Homo sapiens: one gene and its partner. The protein of the gene in region 1 purifies or fractionates together with the protein of each later gene. This does not show direct contact. Each region holds a gene or a part of one and is shown on either strand. Other genes may lie near its edges.

What was found. The genes of interacting proteins can lie anywhere in the genome.
Region 2: the proteins of CSTPP1 (region 1) and ALCAM purify together in Homo sapiens (co-immunoprecipitation; one large-scale study listed by IntAct). This does not show direct contact.

What each region holds. Positions count from the first base shown.
Region 1 is NC_000011.10:46,980,626-46,986,409, forward strand, and holds part of CSTPP1 (centriolar satellite-associated tubulin polyglutamylase complex regulator 1), read left to right. Parts: intron 1-5,784. UniProt on the Homo sapiens protein: Regulator of the tubulin polyglutamylase complex (TPGC) that controls cytoskeletal organization, nuclear shape, and cilium disassembly by balancing microtubule and actin assembly.
Region 2 is NC_000003.12:105,572,909-105,575,154, reverse strand, and holds part of ALCAM (CD166 antigen isoform 1 precursor), read right to left. Parts: intron 679-2,246; 3' UTR 1-678. UniProt on the Homo sapiens protein: Cell adhesion molecule that mediates both heterotypic cell-cell contacts via its interaction with CD6, as well as homotypic cell-cell contacts. Promotes T-cell activation and proliferation via its interactions with CD6.

The DNA of each region.
Region 1 (5,784 bases):
CCACAGATACATTATTTTGACTGTATCAACACTTAAAACTTCTGTAAAATGAAAGATACCACAGACAAGTTAAAAGAAGACCATGAAGTAGATGTATGTATTTGTGACATGTATAGAATTATCTACAAGTCAAGAAGAAGAAAAAAAGACAACCAGAGAAGAAAATTGGCAAAGGATAAGAAATACAAATAAACATGAAAATGTGCTTAACTTTATTTGTAATCAAGAAAAGTAAAATTAAAACAACAGAGAAAAGCTATTTTCTAACTATTAAATCGGCAAAATTAAAAAGCATTAGGCCAAGGATAGTGAAAATAGATACTCATACAGCTGGTGGTGTGTAAATTGGAATAACTAATTTGTAAAAGCAATTGTCTATCTCTGGTAAACATGAAGATATCCTGTGCATCCTATGAAATGCCAATTCCATCTTGAGGAATCTACCTTAGAAAAACTCTTGCACATATATACAAGGAAACACGTACAAGAATGTTCAACACAGCCCAGTTTATTATAGTGAAAACATGGAAACAACCTAAATGTTTATCAGTAGGGAAATATTTACCATTGGGAACTATCAAAAAGGTAAGTAGGTTCCATATTGTTTTATAAAAGATCTCCAGACATTGTTGATTAAAAAAAAAAAAGATGCAGAAAGGATATATCAGACACTTAAAAACAACTTAAAACATGAAAACAGAACAAGCTCACAAACTATATTTCTGTATTTTTGAAAATATGTACCCCAAACTGATAATAGTTGTTATCTATGGGAACTGGAATTAGTCTTTAGCTTTATCTGTATTGTTTGAACCTTTAAAAATTATTGTGTGTTTAACTAGAAATAAACATTTTTAAAAATTTAAAGATCATACCAGTACTTTGATTTACCAATTTAAGCTTCTTAATACTATAAAGTATTAACAGGGAAGAGCCAGCAATTTCTAGATAATACAACGTAAGATGGGGCACTTTGTAGGTTTTTGGATTTTTCTTGTTTTGCTTTCATTTTTGGTTTTGAGAGGTAGTGGGGTGAATGGAAGAATACGGGCTTTGGAGTCAAATCTAAGTTTGAATCCAAGCTCTGCCATTTATTTAGACTTTGGGCAGGTTTCTTAACCTCTCTAGTTTTTAAAAAAATTGCTATTACCTACTTCGTTGGGTTGTATAAGAATTACATGTGCTAGATTTCCTCATTTCCCCATTCCCTTTGGTTAAGGGAAATTGGTCTAGTGTGGTCTAAGATCAAAGATGGTCTCGTATGGATGACAAAATGTTTCACAAGAACACACTATATCCTTGGACCAGGATATACCAGTAAAGATGGAGGATGTAAATAATAAATTTTAGAGGTCTATTAACTGTTTAAACCATTAAGCTATCTATTTGTACCTCACAAGATCAAATACTAGATTATGTTAGTGATTTATAAATGATATTGAACTTGAAACTTCTAAGCAGTTTACATGACAGGTTGTTGATTAACAGGTTTACTTTTTTTTTTAAATCTCAGAGAACATTTTAATTTAGTTCAGCAAACATTTATTTGTGCCATCCAGCATCTCAATCTCAAGAGGCCTCATAGACCAAAATATGTCTCAAAAGGAAGAAAGGAAAACTCTATGTATTTATCAATTTATTTATCAAACTCTGGCAAGGGGGGAAAAAGTCAGGTTTAAAGTTGAGTATATGTATATACTCTGCTTTTCACTTGTACTGCTATTGCCTATGTGTGCATCTGTTAATATCATATATAGCAATTCATATGAAGATTTTTTCCAGTGAGACTTAGTTATTCTATTATTGGGACTCTGTATTAAATAATAATTTTTAAAAAAGAGTGCTCTAACTAATGTTAAGGTGGAAATTCTAGACCCCTCAAACAAAAATTTCCAAATAGGACCCCTTATCATTTAATTGTGAAATAAACAACTAATGCTTTTATGGTATTTATGCTTGGGAAGAGAATAAAATAAATAGTTTTGGATTTTCCCCATATAAATTAGGGCCTGCTGAGTAATTAGCAGTTAATAAGTGAATGCTTCCTACAAGTTTAAAGGTCATACCTGAAATGGGTATATGATGATGTATATTTTTATAGTTATAGATTTTATATAGCCCAAGAATCCTTGAAGATAGTCTAAACATCTTGGTTTGATGAGCAGAACTTTCAATAAGGGGGTAAGGGGCTAATATTGTTTGAGCACTTACTATGTGCCAAGCACTATTCTAAGATGATTACATAGATTATTTTATTTAATCTTCACCACAGTCTTCTGTGGTAGGTACTAGTATTGCCCAATTTTATAGAAAAGGGCAGAGAGATAAGGTAACTTATATGAAGTTACACAGTCAGTAAATGACAGAGCTAGAAATCATATCCAGGTTCAGTTGGCTCAAGAACCCATATTCTTAACCATTGCAGTAAAAATTGTTATGCTGTTTTAATCTGTAGAGTCAGCATGTAGCAATAATAATATAATCATTAACATGTTACATTTTGCATATATTGAATGCTTTCTAAAGAAGTAGTTTATTATCAGACATATTCTTAGAATCATACCCATTTTATAGCAGGATTGACAGTGTTATAAAGAGATTACGTGATCAACATGGGGTGAGTCAACAGAACCAAGAAGTTTCTGATCCACAATTGCCTTCACTTGCTAGGTTCAAGTAAGGATCATATAGTGTTTACTTACATTTGCCTTAGATTTTTCAGTATAGCATGATGAAATTCTAAATGCTTATCTCAGACAGTGATGCTATCTGAGCAAGACATGGACAATTGGGCATTAGTGTGAATTTTAGGACACTAGAGCGTAGGTACAGGTTAGAAAACTTAATCCTCATCTTGTGGAAGTCATGGCAAAGCCAAAGAGGAAAAGCCTGTCTTAAATGCTTTTCCTTTTCCAAGGGGCAGCTAAGGTGCCCAGATATCTTTGCCCTCCAGGGATGCAGGTGTGCTGTTTTTTATTCTTTAATCATTCACATAAATTAAAGCCTATTCCTTTGCATTAAAAAAAATGTAAAATGACACTCTCCGTGTTTTATTGCCAGGCAAGAGCTTTGAACTTCTGTCTCATTGAAGTTTGATAAACTAAGGATTTTCCCGTGTTGGGTGGTACCCTTAACCACAGAGGGAGCATTAGACTGATAAGAGCTGCAGGTGAAGGAAACCACCAGGGCACGGCAATTAGGGAGAGCTTCGCACTTGGCTGTTGGCTGGTGTAAAACTCTCTGCAGGGAGGAACTTTTCTTCTTAGCTTCTTCCCTTCACCCACACGTAAAAAGAACACCAGGGCTTTCTATTTCTACTTTGCGAACTAGGAATGGATGGGATGGTTCTTTTCAAGAAACTTTCAAATTTAGGGACAAGTTCTAACTTCACACAAATGCTGATTGGTATGAAGGTGGGGGGACAGGACAGACAGACATACACACACATAAATTCACGTGGACCCAAATGGACCATATCTCTCAGGTGATTTTACTATCAACATACATTCCTGCCTTTGTGCACTGTGTAAAATAAAGATAATTTTTACTTCCATAACTGATTATAAAGTGTTAATGGTGAGGCAACGTGTTAAGAGAATGGGTTCTTGTATCAGGTAAACCTTGGTTCAAATCTTGGCTTCTCTTCCCACTAGCTGTGTAAATTAATTTTGTAAGTCTCAGTTCTCCCACTTGTAAAAATAGAAGTCTAAGAATAACTATTATAGGATTGTATTTGGAAGAAATAGAATAAAGCATGTGAAACAATTAGTACAGTACTATATCTGTCACATTGTTGTTTAATAAATTGTGCAAGTACTCAAAAATGGTAGCTGTTATTATTTGTAATATGAAACTAAATATCTGATTGGTAGATTAATGTTAAACATGCATGGTCCAATATATTTCTTTCTTTCCTTTTTTATATTTTTGGTATAAAGTCTATTTTCTTGAAAATTCCTGCTTTTTTTTTCTAGAAGGACAAAAGTACTTTGATTTTTACTGCTCTGAAAATATTTATCCCGTAAAAAGCTTTCACATTAACTTTGAGTCCCTGGAGCTAGGGAGGAGAAGCAGCAGGATTTGCTACTAAGTAGAGCTCTTTCATTTCTACCATCAAAAAGAAAAAAAAAAAAAATCCTGTGCTAGCCTTAGGTAGAGCTAAGTCATAAAAGGCCATATAGCCTAAGGAAGGACTCTTTTTATAAGATCAGGATAAACCGATAGAAGAAAGGAAGGAGAACACAGAGGTGAAAATGCAGCTGATTTTAATGTTTCCCTGGCCATTTTCCCTCCCAATTTAATATACACCTAATTATAATTATTATATTTTGAAAACAATACCAGAAATTGGCAGGTATTATCTCACAGCTTCACTCTTAGTTTTGGCCGTTTCTTAAAGAAACAGTTTTCTAGTTGGATGAACTGTTGAGTTGAGGCACTGATTTTGTTTTCACCTCTTTTTGGGTGGGGTTGGGGGTGGGCAGTCAGGGTTTGCAGTGGTTTATAGTTGTTAGTTTTGGGAAGCACTCATTTAGATAGAATGAGTCACAGAATGTAAACAGGTCATCCATCTGGACTTTAGGCTGCTGGGAACGTGGTGAAACCTTAGGTCACCGCGATCATTATGGTCAAATGAAGACTTTTGGGCTCAGGTTGGCAGGTAAACTTACTTGTTTTATGAGCTTCACTAGACTACCAGGACTTCAGAAATAGTTTTTTGAAATACCAATATTTATAAATTTTAGGTAATTCCATCATATTTTCCTGAGGAATGAAACTGTGAAAGAAGTAAATGTCTACTTTGGCAGCAACTTCATAGAATTGCTTTTTGGAAGGATATTCATCACTTTGGGGTTTTTTGTTCTCACTGCTCCAGATGAAAGTATTTTTCTGAATTTTTTATGGTAAATGTGGACACTGAATTGGAAGCTTCTATGTAAAGTTTGTCAGGAAACCTCTGTCATACCTAAGGATAAAATTCAGAGAAAGGGAAGAAGTATTTGAGTACCTGACATCTAAGAAGTTCTGGCCTATGTTGTTTACTGAGTAAACTCCCAATAATGCTTTGAGACAGGCTTTTAAGGAAACATGTTATCAATCACGTACTATGTACCAAACACATAGTGGTGTTTTACCTGTATTATCTTATTTATTTCTCATAACCCTATAATGTAAGTACCATTATTATCCCCATTTTACCATGAAGAATAGGCTTGAAGAATAATTTGTTTATGGTCACATAACTAGGAAGTGGCAGAGCTGAGAATGGAGCTCTCAACTCTCTGTAATCCAAAGCCCAGGTTCTTAACCAGTGATTCTTAAACTTAAGAGTACATAAGAAGCATCAGGAGTACTTGTTAAAAATTACTGGGCTGTAGTAAAAAATGTAAGGTCACTAAATCTGGGACAGTGCCAGACTATAAATCTGCGTTTTAAACGGCATCCCAGGGGATTCAGATCAAGAAATTGATTGACCATATTTTGAGAAACATAGTTAAATTATATTGCTTTTCACACTTGATAAAGAAGAAAACAGGTGTAGACTAAGTAACTATCCAAGATTAAGCTACCAAGACAGAGCCATGATTCAAACTCAGGTCTGTCTCACTCTAATACTCATACTTTTTATTATACGCCCATGATTAACTCACACATTTCCAAGTCACAACAAATGCAGAAAACATGACATCTAATAAACCAAGCCAGATAGATTTCATGGTCTTGTTATTTACCAAAGTTAATAACTTATATATACACCAGTACGAAAATTTTCATGGTCCTTAA
Region 2 (2,246 bases), on another chromosome or scaffold:
CAGAATAGGTAAAATTGTCAGTTTGGGAGTACCATTATGTATGTGTGTCTATATGCATCTGTGATTTATTTCTGAGAGTTCGCTGGTGGCATATCAAAGAGTCGGCTCCTATGGTGTCTATCAGTCTGACTCTCGGCCTCCCCTCCCTTGTGATAAAAATCACAGTTTTTAATTAGGGCAATATGAGTGTCCCCAATCTTCACAAGCTGCCACCTTTGGGTTTTAGGTGCTTATGAGAAAGTTTGGGGCATTGCTGATAGCAATCAGAATCAGAAATGTACCTGCTCAGATTATCCATATAAACAATTGAAATAAAAACATTACATTATACATCAGATTAACAGCAACTCCCAGAACAAAGCTTACAGTGTATAAAAATAGCTACGTAAAAAATTTACATAAAAGGCAAACCAAAAAGAAATCCTCAGTGCAGACATTTACGGAAAAAAAATTGAACCAAACACAACATATGACCTATTATCATGGCTGCCAAAACTTGTTCTTATTGTTTGTAATTAAATTTCATTTGTTTTACTTGAGATAATTCTCTGAAAACCTGTGACAGCTTGGTAGAATGAACTGCTTAATACTTGAACCATGAATTGCTGTCAATGTCTTTGTTTATGTCTTAAATACAATCCACGTTCATGCTTCAATTGGTCTATATGATTTTTATCTCTGAAATGAAAAAAAAATAATTTAGATAAGCTTCCAAAGCAATAATTTTTTAACATCAACAGATACTTTGTACTAAAAGTAATTTAGTAAATTACTTTACAGGAGGGCCTTTTATAAAACTCCATTGTCCCCAAGCCCATCTATAATCTCAGGCATTGCTTCATCCATTCTACAAATAGTTTTTGGAATTATTCAGAGTTTTCTTTTTTTGTAAAATTAATACTAATATTACAAGTTTTTTTTCAAGAAAATATTTCATTGCATTTCTCTTTAGGTTAAAAGTACACTCATTTCTTCAAATCACACTATTTCGTGGGATTTGTCTTCAAGTACAGTTTTTCATTGAGAAGTTATACGATTTTGAAGAAAACAGTAGTTAAAATCTATGTTTACAAAGGACTGGGGAAAAGAACCCTAGAGAAGTGGAAAAAACAAACAAAAAAAGTCATGTGGGAATGCTGCATACTTGACCTCCAATGAAAGGTGAGATAGAGAAGCAATCCAGTTCTGATTCCTTTCACCCCATCAGTTTAAAATCCTGGCTTTCAGATTTTAAAAACCAAGTCTTGTTTCAATTATTCTATTGTTCTCCCCTGTGTGCATCCTTTTAAATTCAGTATTTTCTCACGCTCCATCCTTACTATGGGATTAACTTGGATGACCCACTCAAATTGTGACTTGTGGTTTATTTATAATGAACCCGAGGTTTACTGTGGCGGTTGGGGCTTGTCATATCATATCGGTAAGCTATAGTAACAGTTATTCTAAAGGACACATTAATAGTCCAAATGGCTCTTCTATTTGCTTGGTTTAAGGGAACACAAATAAAAAGAAAAACCTCAAATTGCAGGTGGCAATGCCATGGAAACATACCTCTTTTGAGATTGTCTTAAAAATCACACACAGCTATTTTATATGTTAAATATAACAGTCATATGCCTCTACATATGTGCATATAGATACATGGATACATATATACACATACACATACATATACTACCTATAAAAGCATATGCGTATATGTATACACACGTGCACAAGTTTGTTATGCTTTTCATTAAAATGATTTGGGATATTGGCTGTATAAATACACTCACGCTTTTATTAAATATCTAGATTAAAGTTTTTTATTTTTTTATTTTTATATTTTGAGACAGAATCTCATTCTGTCACCCAGATTGGAGTGCAGTGGCACCATCTTGGCTCACTGCAACCCCCACCTCTTGGGTTCAAGTGATTCCCCTGCCTCAGCCACTGGAGTAGCTGGGATTATCGGTGCTTGCCACCAGGACTGGCTAATTTTTGTATTTTTAGTAGAGACGCAGGGTTTCACCACATTGGCCAGGCTGGTCTGGAGCTTCTAGTCTCCAGTGATCCACCCGCCTCAGCCTCCCAAAGTGCTGGGATTACAGGCGTGAGCCATTGCCTATACCTGGCCTAAAATTTTCATATTTTAAAATTATTTTCATAATCATTTATTTAAAACAAATCTAAGGTATTAGAATCTGTTCTTACTGAACCCAAACACCAATTCAAAAAATAAAGCTTCTTTGCACTTAAAGTTTTTG